Linked DNA regions of Homo sapiens. The protein of the gene in region 2 purifies or fractionates together with the protein of the main gene of each other region. This does not show direct contact. Each region holds a gene or a part of one and is shown on either strand. Other genes may lie near its edges.

Region 1 (7,024 bases), on a different chromosome or scaffold from region 2:
AATAATGTAGGTGATATTTTTCCTACTAAGAAGGCTAAGGTTCCAAAGGTATAATACCATGCATACGCTAACATTTAGTAAAAGTGTACATCAAGCAGTTGAGCCAGGATTTGTGACTCTAAAACCCATACTGTTTCCATTCTCTAAGCTCCACTGTATGCTAGTTGCAGGACGATGGGCAAGTTATATAACTCCTTTGAACTTTGATTCATTCATTCATATAAAAAGGAGATAGTCTATATTGGATTCTGGTGAAAGTTAAATGAGAAAAATCCATGGAATGTGCTTACCACATAGTAAGTTTCCAAAACATGTTAGTTATTGCTAGTAATATGCTTTGCTAGGAATAACCATAAACATAATTATCTATTTAAGGTCCACTGGTAATCAATCACAGCTTTGCTGGTGATCTGCCCGTCGGGGACTACCTTTGTTACAACCTCTAGTCATGTATTTTCCTTACCCCCTGACTGTTTTCCTCTGTGTTACTGACTAAGGCTTGGAGATCTGACCCAAGTCTCCTTTATTCCTTGGTGTGTTAACTGCTTTTCCTTTCAAACACCCCAGTCTTCATGTTGTGAGCCTGCCCTGGCATCCTGAACCTGATTTCACTTTGCTGCCTTCCTTGACAGTATGGATTTGAGAGTGTTCTCCAATACAGTTTTCTCAACAGTCAAGTCCTAAGTCCCTGGACTTGGCAGCTCTTACAGTTGTGATTTGTATCATTTATGCTATAGCTTCCGGATCTCTTACTTTTATAGGATCATACCAAAAAAGAGTTGGATTCTTGGAAAATTGTCCGAGTTAGTGAAAATTTCCGAGTGATTGCCTTGGGCTTGCCAGTGCCAAGGTATTCTGGGAATCCATTAGACCCCCCTCTTCGTTCTCGATTTCAAGCCAGGGATATTTATTATTTACCCTTCAAGGTAAGTAAGACCAAGGATAATTTATTTGTTAAACAGTTTTTCTATTTATAACAAGAACTTCAATGCTATAAAAATGTTACTGCAGTTTTGAATGTCTTCCTGAGTAGGTCATGGAAAGATATGAGAATAAAGAGTAAAGAAAAGCTCTGGAAACTAGGAAGAAAAATTATTATGGCATTATTTGAAGGATTTTTTTTAAAAGGCTGGCTTTTCTTTTAGAAAATGAAATGTATCAATAAATGATTTTTTGCTGTTAAATATTTAGTGTCTGCTTAATTAAAAGGTTGGATTGTATCTACAAAACATTTGCATTTAATCTGTTACATTTCTTGTTAATTAATTTAATATGTTTCTGTATTACTTTAGGACCAACTTAAGTTGTTATATTCAATTGGAGCCAATGTTTCTGCTGAGAAGTAAGTATATTTTTATAAATGTCTGGACACTGAATATTGAATTTGTTTTGCCTGTTCATTGATTGATTGATTAATTAATTCAGTCATTCAACAACTAGAATTCTTATAAGAATTTTTCAGTATTAGGATGTTTGGTGATAAAATTAATAAGATATCTTTGGCAGGAAACTCAAGATCTAATAGAGTTGAAAGATATGTGAATAGCTTTGGTTAACATGGTATAGTAAGTGCCATAATTTGAAAATATTTGGGGGCATTAGTTGAGACTTTATAAGGGCTTCATAAAAGCATTGGTGTTTGAAATGGGTCCTAAATAATGAGCAAGTTTTTGCCAGATAGAGAGTGGAATCAAGAAATTCGAACACAACAAGTGTTTTTTTTTTGTTTTGTTTGTTTGTTTGTTTTAAAAGCATGGAATGTGAGAGTTTATGCCTTGTTTTTAGGGCCATAAAAAACTCTTGGAGGCTAGAGTTTAGGTTTGGGATTACGAAATGTGAGAGATGAGGCTGGCAGGGTAGATTTGGACCAGGTGGTGAAAAACCTCAAATATTGTGATGAATTTAGGAATATATTTGCATCTAATCAGCTTCTGAGTTTTAAGTAGGATATTATGATGCGGAACCATTGTTCCTTAAGAATTAATATTAGGGATCTTTTTTAGATTAATTAAATTGGCCCCTGTATTTTATATTTAACAACTTACACATTTTATATTTTAAAACTATTAAAATTTAATATCATTTTTCCCTTAGAGTTTCTCAGCTCTTGTCCTTTGCCACAACTCTGTGTTCCCAAGAATCTTCTACTCTTGGACTTCCAGACTTTCCTTTAGATAGTTTAGCAGCTGCGGTTCAAATCTTGGTAAGTAAAATAAATTAATGACTGGCATACCCAAATATGTTAAAAATTTTGAAAGTTAATCATTAGGGATTAATGACTTCAGTTTGCTTTTGTCATACTCTTCTATAAATATTGTAAGGCCTGAGATTAATTTGTTGTGCAGTGCAGTAAACTGTACAGAGACCAAGGACATGTTCTGAGCCCCTAAAGAGCTTTCAGCTTTGGAGTAGGAGCTAGACATGCAATCTCAGTAAAGTTCTACAGAGGGAAGGAAGGCTTTAGCCTGATCAAGTAAGAGGTGTGCTGCAGTGTGAGTTAGGCCTCAGAGCTGTCCTTACCTGAGTTAGGGGAGCTAGGGCTTTCACACTGTTCTAGCTTCCATCAGTCTCTGTGTCATGGTTGTCTCAGGGGACACAAATTCCCAGACACTAACTGCTCTCCCAGCATGTGTGCAAGGGTGGCTTCAAGAGCCCAAGGATCGTCTTCTTAGAAAGACCTACAGCAATTGCTGTTGGAAGAGAAAGCTAGGAGGCACAAGAGAGAATGCAAACAGATCTGAGGGGATCTGATAGAGTACAGACATTGTCCACTACAGTTTCACAAAGGGCATGGCGGTCATGTCTGGAGTGATAAAAGGCCCAGGAAGTCAAAGCACAGGCAAATGTGTTTAATCACAAAAGGGCCTAGTATCTTTGGAGAATGAGAATAAGTTGTATCCCTAAAGCAAGTGTGTGTGGTAGAGGGAGAAGTCAGACCGCTATTGTGAAATGTTTTGCATGATGAATGAAGTTTCCTGGATTTTATGATATGGAAAAAGTGGCTTATCAGACAATATTAAGTTGGTGGGCTATGAATGTGACCAGACTTATGTTGGAGGAAGACACCTTTGTTGGAAGTGAGGGAATGACTAGGAAGCTTTTGTAACACTCAGTGAGACCCTGTGGAGGAGGGCACCATCCAAGATAGTGGGAATACTATCTTAGGCAAGAGACTTATTTTTAAACTTGTATGTATGTATGTATGTATGTATGTATGTATGTATGTATGTATATATGTATGTTTCATGTGAGTCAGGGAGCCTAGGTATTGTTGACATTGTTCTATACATCCAGAACAGAATTTCTCCTCCTGTTTATCAAATCTTATACTTTTATCAAATCTTTTTGTTTTTGCTTAGAACATTTTATTTTGAAAATTCTTATGAAATCTTTTGTTTTTGCTTAGAACATTTTACTTTGAAAATTCTCAAATGTAAAAAAAAGTTGAAAAACAGTAAAACATTCATAATCCCCTCACCTACAATCACCCATTATTAATATATTGCCACATTTGTTTGCATGTGCTTTTTTCTTTTTTTTTTTCCTGAACCATTTGGAAGTAAATTGCAGTCAGTACTCTTAAATACTTCAGTGTGTGTATCAGTTCGTTCTCCCGCTGCTATGAAGAAATACCTGAGACTGGGTAATTTATAAAGAAAAGAGGTTTAATTGACTCACAGTTCTGCAAGGCTATGGAGGCCTCAGGAAACTTACAATCGTGGTGGAAGAGGAAGCAAACACGTCCTTCACATGGTGGCAGGAGAGAAAAGTGCAGAGTGAAGGAGGGGAAAAGCCCTTTATAAAGCCATCAGATCTCATGAGAACTCACTATCATGAGAACAGCATGGAGGTTAACTGCCTCCATGATTCAGTTGTCTCCCACTGGGTCCCTCCCATGACACGTGGGGATTGTGGGAGCTACAATTCAAGATGAGATTTGGGTGGGGACACAGCCAAACCATATCAGTATGCAACTTCTAAGAATTAGGACATTCTTCTACATAACCAGAACAACATTATCACACTTCATATCATGTTAACAGTAATCCATAGTATCATCTAATAGATAGTTCATATTGAAATTTCACTAATCTTTCTTGTCAACAGACTTTTAAAGTGGGGTGAACAGAATTGACAGTGCAGATAATGTGAGGAAGGATTTGAGGATAATGAATACTTTCTAATTTTGTAGTTATAACTGTGAAGCTAAGTGAATGTGGATGAGATTAACTTAGGAATAAAAAGGGATCAGGTACTTTGGGATGAATAAGGTAGAGACATGTATTCTGTTTCAAATGGGGGTCTATGGGATATTCATATAGTCACATGTAATGAACAATTGAGGGTTCAGGTTTAGAGCTCAAGAAAGAAGTCAAGACCAGACATAGAAGTGTGGGAGCCATCAATACATAGAAGATAAATGAAAGATGGGAATGGGTAAGCTTACCCAGAGAAAGGGCAAGGAATGAGAAGAGAAAATAATGAATATTTGCTTTTGTAGACTTACAGAAAATACCAGACACCTATTGGTTACTTTTATAAGTCAATTTTAATGTCATATGTACATTTCAGATGTTTTCTGTGATTATTTTGAATTTTGCTCATTCCTATGTATTTTTGCTCCTACATAGGATTCCTTTCCTATGATGCCAATCAAACATGCAATCCAGTGGCTTTATCCATATAGTATTTTACTAGGTCATGAAGGGAAGATGGCTGTGGAAGGTGTTTTAAAGGTGAGTGTCTGCTTCCCTTTCTTTCCTTTCTTTTCCCATTTTCCCTTCCCTTGCCTTTTCCCATCTTCCCCTCACTCCTTTCCCCACCTTTCCTATTTTTCTCTCCCCATCCTTATTTCTTTCCTTTCCCTTCCCCTCCATTCTTTACCAGGCATGGAGGTATCAGCATTCCAACAAGAAGACAGCTGTGATAAATAGGGCAGCAAACACACAGGGGCTGGTGTGATTGGGAGATTGGTTATGTTGAGCAAATAAGTAAATAGATTGAGCAAATGAATGAATATATTAAGGATAATAAGAGTTATGCTTCTCACTGTTGGATGAGGGATTTATAACCATGGAAAGGGGGAAGGCAAGAAAAAACTCTAAGGTATTGGATTGGAATTGGTGTTATTATGAATCATGACTTTTTTTAAACAATATATATGAACAAATAGATAGAGATAGTATGTGTATATGTATACATACACATATTTTCTAGCTGTCTCCTAAGGCAGCCTAAAAACTATGATGTTCTCATATTTAGTTAAAAAAATAGGATTGCTCTCCCTCTCCCTCTCCCTCTCCCCACGGTCTCCCTCTCCCTCTCTTTCCACGGTCTCCCTCTGATGCCCAGCCGAAGCTGGACTGTACTGCTGCCATCTCGGCTCACTGCAACCTCCCTGCCTGATTCTCCTGCCTCAGCCTGCCGAGTGCCTGCGATTGCAGGCGCGCGACGCCACGCCTGACTGGTTTTCGTATTTTTTTGGTGGAGACGGGGTTTCGCTGTGTTGGCCGGGCTGGTCTCCAGCTCCTAACCGCGAGTGATCCGCCAGCCTTGGCCTCCCGGGGTGCTGGGATTGCAGACGGAGTCTGGTTCACTCAGTGCTCAATGGTGCCCAGGCTGGAGTGCAGTGGTGTGATCTCGGCTCGCTACAACCTCCACCTCCCAGCTGCCTGCCTTGGCCTCCCAAAGTGCCGAGATTGCAGCCTCTGCCTGGCCGCCACCCCGTCTGGGAAGTGAGGAGCGTCTCTGCCTGGCCGCCCGTCGTCTGGGACGTGAGGAGCCCCTCTGCCTGGCTGCCCAGTCTGGAAAGTGAGGAGCGTCTCTGCCCGGCCGCCATCCCATCTAGGAAGTGACGAGCGCCTCTTCCCGGTCGCCATCCCATCTAGGAAGTGAGGAGCGTCTCTGCCCGGCCGCCCATCGTCTGAGATGTGGGGAGAGCCTCTGCCCTGCCGCCCCGTCTGGGATGTGAGGAGCACCTCCACCCGGCCGCGACCCCGTCTGGGAGGTGAGGAGCGTCTCTGCCCGGCCGCCCCGTCTGAGAAGTGAGGAGACCCTCCGCCTGGCAACCGCCCGTCTGAGAAGTGAGGAGCCCCTCCGCCCGGAAGCCGCCCCATCTGAGAAGTGAGGAGCCCCTCCGTCCCGGCAGTCACCCTGTCTGGGAAGTGAGGAGCGTCTCCGCCCAGCAGCCACCCCGTCCGGGAGGGAGGTGGGGGTCAGCCCCCGCCAGGCCAGCCGCCCCGTCCGGGAGGGAGGTGGGGGGGTCAGCCCCCCGCCCGGCCAGCCGCCCCGTCCGGGAGGTGAGGGGCACCTCTGCCCGGCCGCCCCTACTGGGAAGTGAGGAGCTCCTCTGCCCAGCCAGTCGCCCCGTCCAGGAGGGAGGTGGGGGGGTCAGCCCCCAGCCCGGCCAGCCGCCCCGTCCGGGAGGTGAGGGGCGCCTCTGCCCGGCCGCCCCTACTGGGAAGTGAGGAGCCCTCTGCCCAGCCGCCCCTACTGGGAAGTGAGGAGCCCCTCTGCCTGGCCACCACCCCGTCTGGGAGGTGTACCCAACAGCTCATTGAGAACGGGCCATGATGACAATGGCGGTTTTGTGGAACAGAAGGGGGGAAAGGTGGGGAAAAGATTGAGAAATCGGATGGTTGCCGTGTCTGTGTAGAAAGAGGTAGACATGGGAGACTTTTCATTTTGTTCTGTACTAAGAAAAATTCTTATCCTGTTGATCTGTGACCTTACCCCCCCCCCCCCCCCCCCGGCAAAAAAAAACTATGATGTTCTAGTAGCAGTGATCATACCAAGTACCTGGACATTGGTTTCTAAATACCATGCTCTCTAAAAGGATTAGGTCAGGGAATGCAGAAGATGAGCCTGGACCATCTTTTTGTGCCAGAGAGTAAGGAAATATTCAACAAATGATGTCGATATGTCAAAATGATGGAGTTCCCAGGTTGAAGTGGCTGAAATCTGGGACAATTTGAGCATAAAAATAAATGATGATGGTAATTGGTTTTAACCTGTTACATAAAAT
Region 2 (7,060 bases):
ACAGAAGGAATGGTGATAATCGGTCTGTTTACAGAGTGCCAGGCAAGCACTATTATTAGCTCCATTTTATAGACACTCCGCATATATTATCATAGATAGTCTGCATATGTTTAATCTTTCCTACACCCTTACAGGACAGATATTATTATGGTCTCCATTCTGCAAATAGGAGAAATGAGGCTCAGAGGGATGAAGACTTTCTCGTCCACATCCGCCATGCTAGTGAACAGCAGTGCTGGGATCTGAACCCAGGTTTCAAAGAGCATCTATTATTCATTATTTATTGGGGCCTTCCTGGATGCCTGACACTATAACAATAACGACGACAATAATAATACTAATTCCTTGTGTTCCAGGTCATAGAATGTGAAAGGAAAATAAATCTTGGGGCCCCCAAATCACTAAGCTAAAGGGAAAAGTCAAGCTGGGAACTGTTTAGGGCCAACCTACCCCCCATTCTATTCAAAGGCAGCCCTCTGCTCACTGACATAGATGCATTATCTGTTTGTCTCCTTTGGAAAGGCTAATCAGAAACTCAAAAGAATGCGACCATTTGTCTCTCACCTACCTGTGACCTGGAAAACCCCTCCCTGCTTCAAGTTGTCCTGCATTTCTAGATCGAACCAATGTACTTCTTACATATATTGATTGATGTCTCATGTCTCTCTAAAATGTATAAAATTAAGCTGTGCCCAGACCACCTTGGGCATGTGACAGGAGGACTTCCTGAGGCTGTGTCATGGGAGTGTCCTCAACCTCGGCAAAATAAACTTCCTAAATGAACTGAGATCTGTCTCAGATTTTCTGGGTTCACAGGTATGTACACATTTTACAGCATCACCTCACTTAAAACAACAATCCTTATGGTATAACCATTTGAACCCTAATTTCCAGATGAGGAAACAAAACAGAAGCACAAAGTGAAGTAATTTGCACATCCTGCTGGTTAAAGTTGGAGCCAGTTTCGGAACTCATGCCCTGCTCCCCAGCCAACTCAGAAATCTGGCTGACCCTGTCATCAGCACGTGGCCCCAGCGTGTCTCCCAGCCCACCACACCCGCTGGAGCCTCTGATGTTTATAATTCTACCAGGACTGGCTTGAAACTCCCCCTGAATGCTGCTGGGGCTTGTTCCTGCCCAGCCTGTGTTTGCAATGGCTTTGACTGATTTTCTGGAAGGCAAGCCTCTGCCGGGAACACATTCTTTTTAATGGAGTGTTAATCAGGAGGGAAGGAAAAGAAAGATTTTTCTACTGCCCAGCTTCACAGGGGCTGAGCTTCCTGTCTTCTCTCATTTTTCCCCCTAGTATGTTTATTTCTCCCAGGGTGGGATGCGGCAGTGAGAGCCCTGGGCCTAAAGCTGTGCATAGGCCCAGTCCCTACTCCACTCCTATTGCTGACTCATGGCATGACTGTGAACGAGTCCCACCTAGGCCTCAGCCTCCTCAGCTGCAAGATGGGCCTACCCTGCTACCCTGGAGTGGACTGAGGATGATTTTGGAGAAGTATAAGAATGTCAGCCCACCCTTGGCACCTAGTAGGTGCTCAGTAAATCATCACTTCTTCTTTCTGGCCTCCTAATTCCCAGACAACCTGGGTCTGACTCCTTGGTGGCCTTGAACAAGTTACTTTAATCTCTCCGTGCCTCAGTTTCCTCATCTGAAAAAAGAAGATAAACAGTACCCACCTCCTCTGGTTGTGGTATTAGCTGAGATATTATAGGCAACAGCAGTTAGCAAAGTGCTGAGCGAATAGTTAGCACTCAGAGTTACCAGTTAGTGTTACTACAATTACTGGTAAGCCTCAGTTTCCCTGTCTGGGACAAGGAGAGGTGTTTCACCGGAAACCAGTTGCGGTTATTAACACTATCATTGTTCAGCCTTAACGTGCACTTCTAGACTCTGTTATGATGCTGGAGTGCACAAAATCCCGTTTCTTCTTTGTTTTTTAATTCTTTGATATCTGCTTAACCTATTCTTTATATTAAATGCCCTCTGTCAAAATATCCAACATGGTTTCTATTTTCCTGTCTGTACCATGATTGATGAGCACCCAGAGGCCCCAATAGCTGAGTCAGGCAGGTTAAGATCTCTGCTGGGAGCCGGGAGAGAAGTTTTCCGTAAAGATAACTTTGCAGGCTGCATTCCTGAGCCCTGAGGTCACCTGTGTCACACTGTCCCAACGTCAGCTCCCAGGAAACTTTCTCTGGCTATTCCCAGGGCTGAGGGCTACATCCCGGCCTCCCCATTCTCTCTCCCTCCTGCCCCTGACTTACCAGACACCTCCACGTATCCATCTTTGGTCTTCACCATCAACTCCTCTGGCTTGAAGCTGTGCACATTCACACACACTTTCCAGGGCTCCCCAGGGAAGGGTGGGGGGGTCCTGCCCTCGGCAGGCACCCCAAACCTGGCGGTGGCAGTGGGGCCCCGGGGCACCATGCCCGACCTTAGGGTGCCTGGCCAGGCGGAGGAGAGACGAGGCAGAGCCCAGTCGGGCCAAGAGGCTGTCAAGTCGTCTGGGAAGGGGTCCATGCCAAAGCCATCATCCAGCAGGCGAGAGGAGAGGGGAGAGTCCCGGAAGGGGTCTCGGCGCAGGCGGCTTGGGTAGTGGCAGGAGAAGGGCATCTGACCGTCAGCCATGGTGGCTGCTCAGCTCAGAGAGAAACAGAGGCTCAGAGAGACAGAACCACCTGCCCAAGGTCACACAACAAGGTGGTGTGGCTGGGCTAGCTTATTCTTCAGCTTCCGAAAATGCTGCTTTTCTGCAGGGAGAAGCAGAACCAACCACTGCCAGGGACGGTTGTGTCCCCTCGACTGGGGTCCCAGCCCCCAAAGGTAACCCCCGGGGCAGATCCAGCAGAATCCCAGAGGGTCCCCGTCCGCACTGCCTCACGACAGACCGGCAAGCCACCGTCCTCCCAGGCTTCCCAGGCTGCCCAGGCTGGCAGCCAGAACCGCTGAGGTCTAGAGCGGAGCCAGGAGCTTAATAAACCCAGGGCACGCGCGCCTAGAAACTTCTTCTGGCTCCTTCTGGGCTGCAAGCCTTCTATTTATTTGCTGCTGGAGGCTGGAGGCGGGTTTTGCAAGCGTCTCCTGTCACAGGAATATTCGGAGGTGATGAACCAGCCCCGGAGAATCCGCGGAGGGAACAGCTGGGCTGTGGGGGGAGCTGGGAGGGGCCGCGTCCAAGTTCAGCCGGCCTCTCCGGACACTCTCTCCTCCCCTGGCCACTCCGCTCAGCTCCGCCCTCCTCTTGCTCCAGGAGCTGGAGCCGCCCTCCCCGAGCGGGGCACTAAGGCCTGGCTATTAATAACCCCGAGCCTGGCTGAGGGCTCAGGTCACCCTCTGGAAATACCTTCCCTAGAGCGTGTCGTATCCTGCCTTTCCCCTGGGGACCTGCAGAAAGGGAAGAGAGAGACAGGAGCCCAGTGGATTTGAAGGATGGCCCTGGGTTGCAATCCCCACTTACAAGATGGCCAAGCTCCTAGAGCCTCAATGCCCTCTGGGGAGATTGGTAAAGGAAAAAAAAAATTTTTTTAATGTGTATATATATATTCATATGACGCTTGTTAAAGTATGACAAGCAAGACTTTACTGGGCAGGGAAACTTTCTCCATAGATGTAGGGACCCCTGCAATGGGATTTTGCAGTGAGGGAGAAAGATTAGACTTGATTCCCAGTAGGTCATGGGTAAGTGTGAATTTGTAGCCAAGAAGCAGGTGGGGGGTCAGCGAATGGAAATTTACTAGGAGGGAAGTCCAGGAGTCAGAGGGATTCGGGCTCAGCTAACCTAAGAGGATTCTTGCTGAAGACAGGCCAGGGTGCTCAGACATCACCTGGGGGACCGCGGAGGATGAGGAAACTAATCAGATATCGAGGGTGATCAGAAATCGAAGATGGGTGGTTGCTACTAAACAGACTTAGCAGAGTTCATGCCAAAACTGAATTTTTCTTTCTTTCTTTTCTTTTTTTTTTTTGAGACAGAGTCTCACTCTGTCCCCCAGGCTAGAGCGCAGTTGCGCCATCTCCGCTCACTGCAACCTCCGCCTTCCAGGTTCAAGCGATTCTTCTGCCTCAGACTCCCGAGTAGCTGGGATTATAGGCACCCGCCATCGTGCCCGGCTAATTTTTGTATTTTTTAGTAGAGTTGGATTTCACCATCTTGGCCAGGCTGGTCTTGAACTCCTGACCTCATGATCCACCTGCCTCCACCTCCCAAAGTGCTGGGATTACAGACGTGAGCCACCTCGCCTGGCCCAAAACTGAATTTTTATAAGGAACCTCACTGATGGGCTTAGGAGAAGATTCAGAAATCCGATTAATGTTTGGTCAATCAAAGCATCTTTATAGGCAGTAACATTATTCCCAGGCACCTCCAGGTTGTTAGTTTTCCTCCTTATAAACGGACATAACAGTAGCCAACTCACAGATGTACCATGAAGAATACATGAGGTAATTCTCTTTCTCCTTGTATTTTCAATTTTGAGTTATCAATTACATAATGTTTGCTATATGCCAGGCCCTGCTCTATGGGCTTTATAAATATGAATTCATTTAACCCTCACCAGCAATCCTGTGAGGTAAGAGTACCAGTATTATCCCATTTTACAGATGAGAAAACTACCATAGAAGTGTTCATGAATAGTAGCTTCTATTATTATTATGACTGTTAATACTGATAATTATTGAAAGATGTTACACTCAGGCAGGAGGTCTGGTCTGAAACTCAAAGCCCCAAATCTAGACTTTCCTGCTCTTCCCATGCAGCTGGAAGAATGAATTTACAAATCCTCCTTTGGCTTGGAGGCCTCTTCGGCTTGGGTTCTAATCTTTGATCTGTCCGCAACAGGCAGAAAATTTTAGGCATGTCGTTTTCCCTGTGTGGGCTTTCGGGTCTCAGCCCTGCCTTCTTCACGAGATGAGGGTAAACTGAGGATATTAAGGAATTCAGTGAGTCATAGGTTGAGAAATTGTTTTGATATTAAACAGTGAGTGCATGAGGCAGTTTGCTAAAAATAATAATACGGAGAAAAACAATCACTGTCGCCCATTGCCTCCTGTGCGTCTGCTTTTAGAGTTAGTACATTTCAGACATTACTGAGTTAAATCCTGACTCGATAGTTAAACGTCACTATTATCATCACCCCCATTTTGCAGGTGAAAAAACAGAGGCACAGAGGTTTGACCCTTGCACACAGATATGGAGTGGCAGAGCCTGGGTGGGAACCTGGGTTGTTCTGAATCCCGGATCTGTGCTTAACCGACAGACAGAGACCCCTGCCCTCCTCCCCAGCTGAGAAAGAATGGTGGGGACCCCACGGCATGACATGTCCCGAGTGACTGGGCCCCCACTGGATGTAGGGTGAGCTCATCAGGCTGGAAGCTTCGGGCTGACGTCATGGCTGGGCACAGAAGCTTCAGCTCTCTCTGTAATTACAGCTGGGCGGGGCTGGCTGAGTTGGAAACCAGTTGTGGGGAGAATCACTGCAAGCCGCATGACGCACCGGAGAAACCTGGCCCTGCCTGGGACCTGGGCAGGGGCTGGGGTGAGGTTTCTGAGTGGGTGGGACAGAGTGGAATGAGTTTGTGTGCGGATTTGAGTGGGTGCAGGAGTGAGTCTGTGTTTATGCGCCGATAGGTCTGTGTTTGTTTATCGCCGAGTCTGCTGGTGGGTATGTTCAGGAAGAAACTCCCCTCCTTTTCCCTTCCCAGGCCATCCCCAAACCTCCAGAGGACCCCTCTGCCTCAAATGAGGCTCAGTTGGGACCAGGGGACCTGGAAGGAGGGGAAGCCTGGCGAAGGAGCAGGGAACCGAGCTGTGATGACCTAATCCACCTTCTCATTTCAAGGATGAGGGGGACGAAAGGGAGGATGCAAAGGTAGAAAATAGAAATAACAATCACTGGCATTTACGGGGCACTTGCCCCGTGCCAGCTTCTGTTCTGAGCACTTTAAATGTATGTTCCTAAACTCTTTTACTTCTCCCCACAATCCTATTAGGAAGGATGTTTTTAATTTATTTATTTATTTTGAGATGGAGTTTCACTCTTGTTGCCCAGGCTGGAGTGCAACGGCATAATCTTGGCTCACTGCAACCTCTGCTTCCCGGGTTCAAGTGATTCTCATGCCTCAGCCTCCAGAGCAGCTGGGATTGCAGGCACCTGCCACCACCCCTGGCTAATTTTTGTATTTTTAGTAGAGACAGGTTTTCACCATGTTTGTCAGGCTGGTCTCGAACTCCTGACCTCAGGAGATCCACCCACCTCGTCCTCCCAAAGTGCTGGGATTACAGGCATGAGCCACCATGCCCGTCAGGAAGGATGTTTTATTAAACTCATTTTAGAGATGAGGAAACTGAGGCACAGAGAGATTACCTGACATGCCTATGTCAGTGGCAGAGCTGGGATTTGAACCCCGGGCAGTTTGGTTCTTGTCTCATCTGCTACACTGCCTCTGAAGTCAAAGTCATGGCTCACATTTATTGAACACTAACCATGTACCCGGCCCTGTGGTCAACAGTTTTATCCATGACCTCATGGAATCCTTGTGGTTCAGAGAGGTCAAGCCACCTGCCCTGGACCACACAGCTGACCAAGGATTGGAATCCAAGCCAGGGCGCACTTGGCAGTGCACGGTAATAACCACTATGGGACAATATTGGCCCAGCCTTGCCCAGCGAGCCTTCCACACTGCCTGGTGTCCTGTTCCCCCTTGGGCTCTCATTGCATTTCTGGATCTGGTCAGCCCTTCATTTCAGGAAGCTGAGGAGGGAGGCAGCTGCTCCTGCTAACTCGGCCACCTGGTGAGGAGTTAGCTAACACATGAGGAAAGTGGTCACTAAACCCCATGGGCTGTCACCAATCAGGTGAAAATATGACGCCAGGCTCAGGGGAGGCCCGGGAGAAGAAGGGGCCTCCAAGCTGGTTCCGCCAGGGAAGAAGAGACCTTAGAGGGGACTGTGGTACAGGGGAAGGATGTTAGATCCTGGGAACCAGAGCCACGTTTCTCTTGGCTGCCATCCTCATAGAGCTTTCGTACGGGGCGTACCACCATTAATTC
Region 3 (7,396 bases), on a different chromosome or scaffold from region 2:
TGACATCTCATCATGCGGGTCAGTCTCCAGCCTGACCACTCTGGCTGGAGCCCTCCCTGCATCCCTCCCATTCTCCACCCTGTTTACTTGGTTCACAACACTTATCACACTCTAAATTGATGTTGATTTGTTTATTTATTTATTTTTTAACCTCTATGCATTAGAAGCTAACGTTTTGAGCGCAGGAACATCTTGTCTACACAGCTCCTAGAACATTTCCCAATGGATAGTAGACATTCCATAAATATTTTTTGAATGAAGCCACACATGGCCACTAATTCGTACTCCTTCTTTAGTTCTAATAGTTTTTGTGGTTTTTTTTAACAAATTTCTTTGGTCTTTTTCCTAAGTAGATAATTATCATCTATGATCAATTTTCTCTTTTCTAAGAGTTACACCACATTGTTTTTTTCCTTCCCTATTGTATCAACTAGAACTACCAGAACAATGTTACACAAGACAGGGAATAGCAGGTACCTCTGATTTGTTGTTACTTCACAGACTCACCATTAATTATAATACTGGTGTTGTCTGGGACAGACATTCCTTGCCACATCAAGGAAAAATCCTTTCTAAAGGATTACCAAGTATTTTTAAATTTAGCTCAATTTAGTTTAGTCCTAACAAAAAGCAATCTTGAATTTTATCAGAGAACTTTTGATAATAATGTGTTATTACTTTGATCTAATGATAAAGCAAACTATGTTAATATTTAAATCACCTGAGGTCAGGAATTCAAGATCAGCCGTCCAACATAGTGAAACTCCTTCTTTAATAAAAATACAAAAATTAGCTGGGTGCGGTGGCGTGCGCCTGTAATCCCACCTAATTGGGAGGCTGAGGAAGGAGAATCATTTGAACCCTGGAGGCGGAGATTGCAGTGAGCTGAGATTGAGCCACTGCACTCCAGCCTGGCCAACAGAGTGAGACTCCATCTCAAGAAAAATAAAAATAAAAATAAAAAAATCAGACATTCAAGCAAGTGATGTGATCAGCATGTCTCTTGGCTTGGTGATTGTCAAGGATGGAAAAAACTAAGCCCTGTGGTGGGGATTTGGCCAACAGACTAGAGAGGGTAGGGGACTATGAGAGATTTCTAAAGATCACTGCTTTCTATCCAGCTGTGACTATTAAATACTAAACTGATGAGTATCTCTTTAGCTGAGAGCCTGGGCAAAAGGTTGCCAGGATTACCGGATACTAAGATTGAAAATGGCTGCTTGCCTCCGGCTAAATAAGCCCATAAAACAAACCTTTGGAGAATTATTTTAATTTTAAGAGCATTGTGTTTAAAACTCCACAAAAGCAGTTCTGTATGGTTTCCAGGGCAGTCCCCAATGCCTTGTAAATTTCTCAATATAAAAATTTCTCAATAGTATGCCCCATTGTGCCACAACCCAGGGCTGAAGCATGCCTCAGTGCTGAAGTCTGATGAGGTTGGACACTCAAAGTTCTCAACTCAGCTTCTGCTCCTCATCCTTCCTTTGCTATCTTAGGGTTTTGGCAACCATTTTTAAGCAGACAACTTCCCAGTCTACTTCTCCATCCCTGTTTCAAGAACTTGAGTCCCACATTTCTCATTTTAAATTGCCATGTGGATGAATTGCAGGTACCTCAAACTGCTTGTGCCAAAAACTGAACACCTGATTTCTTGACAAACCTTGTTTCTCATACTATCAAATAGACTGGTCTCCTTTTAGACATCTCTCTTGAGATCTTGCATCATCTTTGCGTCTCTGTCTTTCTTAATCCTCCTTTTTAATGAGTTATCAAATCCAGCCAATATCTTTGGAATTCCACCCTCTTTTTCTACTCTCACTTACATTGCCTTTGGTTGGGTCCTCTTTCCCTTTCTCCTGCATCAGCATTCCAACACAATGGTTTCCTTGATGCCATCTTCACTCTACTCTTCTTGTCTACTGCTATCAGAGTAATCTACCCAAAGTTCAATTTTTTTTTTTGACAGAGTCTCACTCTGTTGCCCAGGCTGGAGTGCAGTGGTGTGATCTCGGCTCACTGCAACCTCCGCCTCCCGGGTTCAAGCGATTCTCCTGCCTCAGCCTCCCGAGTAGCTGGGACTACAGGTGCACATGCTGGGCTAATTTTTTGTATTTTTAGTAGAGGCGGGGTTTCACTGTGTTAGCCAGGATGGTCTCAATCTCCTGACCTCGTGATCTGCCCGCCTCCGCCTCCCAAAGTGCTGGGGCTACAGATGTGAGCCACTGTGCCCGGCCTTAAGTTCAATTTTAACTGTATCATTATCACCCTCAAAACCTGTATTAGCTCCTCAGTGCTTACACAATGAAGTCTAGATTTCATCACATGGCATTCATAGTCAGAGCTCAGCCTACCTTTCAGCTCACTGTGCTCTGAGCACTAGCCCAGTGTTTCTAAACCTCTTTCTCACTACTGTCCCCACAATGCACCTTTTTAGAACTTTTTTCACAATCACCTCCCTTGTGCAATGTTAATACTTCAGATATACTGTGTATCTGTGTATCATGTGTAGATTTGTGCTTTCTACATAAAAAGAGGAAGATTTTACCCCTGTGGAGACTACATGCTCTGCCAAAACAGATCACTTAACAATCCATGAACATGCTCCAGTGTTTTCTAGCTTCCAAGCTTTTGTTCAGTCTGGCCATTAAAGAGGTTGAGGGAATATGAGAAGATTCCTAGACTGTACTTCTGCTATTCAGCACGCTGATCCCCTTGCCTAGAATAGACTCACACATCTCCTCCCACCACCCCCTATTTCTTCCTCTTGAAATCTGACTCTTCATGCAGCAACCTAAATACCGTATCCTCTCTCCATCCACTCAGTTGGCACTAACTTTTCTGTGTGCTCATGGAATTTTCTTTATTCCTCTATTATGTTCTTTTTTACATAGTCATCTTTCTATTTGTGTATCTCTCCCACTGGATTACAAACTTTCTAAAGACAAGGACTGTGTTGTTCACAGTGTGTGATGCCTTCATGTAATAGGCACCAGGATACGTTGGTTGAAATCAGTTCACTGATATACTGGAAACAGTGTAAAATCCCACCAGTGACCATATTGAAAAGTCCCATGTGTATGCTGAATAAATGAACACACTAGAAAAACTGGACACCATATACAAGACATACTCCCAAAACAGGATCATTAATACAGACACTATTTATAAAGGAGTTCTGTATTGTGTACACCATGGGTGAACAAAATTGGTTCCTGGTTCACACAAATAACAGACACCCACAGAAAGTTATCTGAATGGCTAGCTGCCTAGGCATGTTTTAAATAATGATGATCAAATGGGGTAGCCCAGAGAACAAAACACAAGTGGCAATTTTTGATATCATGTTCTTGTACAGATACAAAATTTTAATTGGGTTTATGTGCCATGAAAAGAAATGATATATGTAGAAGTACATTTTATATGTTAGTAATCATCACCACCATCTTCAAAATGACCAAATTAAGGCTATGGGGCAGGAAAGTCAATCTGACAGAGTTATTTTTGGGTAGGAAGTGAAGCCAAGATAAAAACATGTTTTCTGTAAAAGCCTTGATAATTAAAAAAAAAGTATATATGTGAATATCTTTATAAGTTTCTATTATTCTTCATTGCATTGTGGAACAATTGACTTTCTAGGAAAGCTATTTCTGTGGCTTCATAGGATTACCATTTGCTTTCACCAGAGGATTAGGTATTTTTAAATGGCATGTGTATTACTTCTCTGAGTTTATTAAGATGATAATAAAATCTTACAGAAAACTTCTAACAGGTGTTTTCTACAGTCCTTTGCTTCTGGGCTGTCTTCTCCTAAAATACCATAAACGGTTTTGTTTGTTTGTTTGTTTGTTTCTAAAGTCTAAGAATGACTTTTGTGGGACAGTGGAGGTGGGGGTGTCTGTGGGATGAGAGGCTTGGCAAATAATTCGTTTCCAAGGATACACTAATTTCCGCCCTTCAGCCAGGTTCATCCACAGTCAGTAGTGTAATTGAGTTTAGTTCTTCCTGGTCTTTCAGATAAGTAACCCTTTTGCCAGTTACAAACCCTACTTGCAATTCTATTTTCTATGGGCTCTTAATTATTGAAAGGGAGGATTAGTCATGAATCTCCTTTTTCACTCCTTTACTAATCAAGCTCAAGTTCTGCGAGCAAACAGCAACAGCAAAAGCAAATACTTTGGCGCCAACACTTAGCCTTGCCTCACTTAAGAGGCAGAATTATGTAGGCTTGTTTGCTTAACAACTCAGATAGGGGGCGGGGAGGGTGACCGGAGGGGACGAGGGAGGGGACGAGGGACGGGACGAGACGAGGGAGGGGACGAGGGAGGGGACAAGGGAGGGCCCGCCCCCTTGGAACGGGATTGGTTCCCTCTCTCCCTTTAGCCGTTCACTTTGCATCTCGGTTGGACAGGTTGAGAGAAACATGTCATTAAGGTATTGTCAATATGAGCCCTTCAGGTGTGGGCGTTCCCTAGGTTTGTGGTTTTAGACTTTCAAAGGGGCGGACTTATTATTGGCTGTGGGATCAAGTTCGTGAAACTGGTCTTGTACAGGTTGAAAAATGCCTTCCTAACAGGAGGCGCCAAGGAGCTTAAGTGTAACTCACACACAGTAAAGAAAATGACGAAAGTTCCTCCGGCGTTTGATTTCAGTTTCTTAAATGACGAAGAGGCCAGGAAGATCCTTCAGGTGCTGGAAAGGAATGAGGAGTTACAGAGGGCCGAGAAGGACAGGATCAGGTACAGAGCAAATTCATTTCTTTTGTCCTGGGCCTGGGTCCCGCAGGGGCCGGGGATCCGCGGGGAAGGCGCTGAGCTCGCGCGGGGCACCTGCCCGGGGGTGCTCCGAGCGGCTGCTGCGGAGGCTGCGGGTCGGGAAGAGAAAACTGCGCGGAGTTGCTCCCTGAAGGACTTTGGGATGCTTAGTTGGTACCCTCTCCACCCACCACATACCAGACGGGCTCGGCTGCGGGTCTGGGGTCGGGCAGGGTGGGGGGGTCCGTGCGCTGCGGGGGCCGCGCAGTGACGCTGTGCTGTGCCGGGTGTCTGCTGGGCCATCGCGGGGCGTGGGCCGTTTCAGGCAATGAAATGCGGCGGGGGCGCGATCTGGAGAGGAATCCTGGCTGCTGCTCACTCCGCGGCCCGCGCGCACCCACGTGCTCGCACGGGTCCGACAGAGCTTCCACCCTCGCCTAACGCAGTTTTCCCTCGGCACCAGAGGCGAATCTCCCCACCCAATGCGGGCAGTCAGCGAAGCACGGGAGAGCCGGCACCTCACGGGAGGCGAAAGGTCCCCACCCCAAGGGTAGGAGCTCGAGGAATTTGTCAAATAGAGGCTTATGTGGGCGAATGGGACTTGGACACACGGGGTTGGCTGGAATGGGTGGGTCTTCTTGTGCGTGGTGCTGTGGGGAGCGAGTTTCTGAGAAATTTCATCCTTGACCTTACTATACACTGTTGTAGGTGAGGGATTAGTTACTAAAGAATGAAATCCAGAGACACAGATAATTACCCAGGATGTACATTAACCAGTTTTTCTGCTGGGGAAGTGTGGGATAAGTGCTGGAATGAATTAAAGGGACTCTCTCGCCAATATTGGAATATATCCATCTAAGTCCTTCTCTAGATAACTGTGGAAGGGAATTCAGGACATCACTCTCAGACCACACTGTGTGCCATTGATTGGAATTTAGCAAGTCATTTTGTTTTATGATCAACTGCTTGCTAATGCGAGTTCCAGGTTCCCAATTCTTTCTAGAATTGCCTGTCCCCCACCGCCGACAAAAGAAACCCTCCAGGGACCCTCTTCAAATTGGAAAATCTAGTTGGTCTTTGTAGAAAGAATTAGAATACACTAAGCCCAATGCCCTGACTTCACCCTTCTCCCCTAAACATGACTCTTTGAGGGATGAAGGAATATTTGAGGTTGGGGAATATGGATTTCATACCATCTGCCTTGAGAAAAAGTGGCTTTATCATTCCCCTCCCCTGAACAGTGTAGAAAGTGTGCCTTCAGGAGAACAGTATGCCACACCCACACACACCCACGTGCATAATGTACCTACACATATGCACATGCACCGCACAAGGCACACCCAACTTTCAGAAGAAGAATTTCAGAACTGCACGGAATTTCAGTGCATATTCCAAAGGCACTAAGAAACTGCGGTTATTCTCAGTGTGTGTTATTGGAAATGTTTCTTGTCTCTGAAGAGGATGGGGCTTCTTAAGTGATCCATTGTATATTTGGGGAAATTGAGGGGAGAGTTAGAAAATAACAAGGAGAGAAGCTTTCATTTAAGATGTTATCTTGACTTTTTATTTTTGACCTGATGCTTGCTTGCCTTATTGTGTTTTCTCTATTGCAACTCACGATGCCCACTGCAGTTGACTTTAGAGGGAACTGGATCTCCACATAGATCTACACAAAGCACGTGTATCTACACAAAGCCATTGGGCTGGGCATTAGAAGGAAGGTCAAAACACATTTTCTAATTTCATGGCACTCATATTCTAATGGAAGCATCAACAGAAAAAGCCATAATGCTAAGACAAAATCGATACTGTATTATACTAATTATTAAAAGTATTTAATTGCCCAAACAATTTGAAAAATATCACCATTAAAATACAAAAATCATTTAAGGAAAGTAGATGTGTGGACCAAATACCCAAGGCAATGATTTCTAGTACTGTCTTTTCCTTTGATTAATTCCCCACTTCCACTATCAAATACCCATGTCTGGCTTGCAGGCTCCATGGGATTGTTCTGCTTACCCACTTCAGGCTCACATGTATTAATTTCAGTATCAGATATTGGCATGCAGAAAGGGCCTGAGACAACATGGCAACTTGGCTGCCTCTTCTGCTCATTTTCTTGATATGTGTGATCATATTTTCCAAATCAAAAATCAGGACACATGACTTATAACTCAAGAGTATAATTTCATTCTGTTCTGGCTTGGCATATGTGAACAACAACAAAAAAGAGATGCTTCAACAGGCCTGTCTGAGAGACTCAGGGAAGCCTTTTTACTGTATTGAGAAAGAGCTTCAAGACCTCTTGACTAGAACAATAAGGGTCCAAATGGGGAAGTTTAGAAATTTAGCAGGTTGGGGAATGGCTGATGAGTTCATTTATATCTATGATAGGCTTGAGGTATCTGCAAGACAACTAAGAAGAAATACAGGCACCCTATAGTTGGGGCTGGGCCCGGTGGCTCACGCCTGTAATCCCAGTGCTTTGGGAGACTGAGGCAAAAGGATCGCTTGAGGCCAAGAGTTTGAGACCAGCCTGACCAACACAGAGAGACCATGTCTCTACAATAAAAATTAAAAATAAATTTAGCCTGATATTGTGGCACATACTTGCAGTACTAGCTACTCAGGAGGCTCAGGTG

Evidence for each region. The genes of interacting proteins can lie anywhere in the genome.
Region 1: the proteins of HSPB8 (region 2) and VWA8 purify together in Homo sapiens (affinity purification with mass spectrometry; 3 studies listed by BioGRID and IntAct, with this or other methods). This does not show direct contact.
Region 3: the proteins of HSPB8 (region 2) and EXPH5 purify together in Homo sapiens (affinity purification with mass spectrometry; 3 studies listed by BioGRID and IntAct, with this or other methods). This does not show direct contact.

The regions. Positions count from the first base shown.
Region 1 is NC_000013.11:41,881,099-41,888,122, reverse strand, and holds part of VWA8 (von Willebrand factor A domain-containing protein 8 isoform a precursor), read left to right. Parts: intron 1-761; coding exon 762-926; intron 927-1,292; coding exon 1,293-1,342; intron 1,343-2,094; coding exon 2,095-2,203; intron 2,204-4,631; coding exon 4,632-4,736; intron 4,737-7,024. UniProt on the Homo sapiens protein: Exhibits ATPase activity in vitro.
Region 2 is NC_000012.12:119,174,894-119,181,953, reverse strand, and holds the start of HSPB8 (heat shock protein beta-8), read right to left. Parts: upstream 3,024-7,060; 5' UTR 2,642-3,023; coding exon 2,275-2,641; intron 788-2,274; exon of another isoform or gene 1-787. UniProt on the Homo sapiens protein: Involved in the chaperone-assisted selective autophagy (CASA), a crucial process for protein quality control, particularly in mechanical strained cells and tissues such as muscle. Displays temperature-dependent chaperone activity.
Region 3 is NC_000011.10:108,590,758-108,598,153, reverse strand, and holds the start of EXPH5 (exophilin-5), read left to right. Parts: upstream 1-4,385; 5' UTR 4,386-4,420; coding exon of another isoform or gene 4,421-4,431; 5' UTR 4,432-4,617; coding exon 4,618-4,736; intron 4,737-7,396. UniProt on the Homo sapiens protein: May act as Rab effector protein and play a role in vesicle trafficking.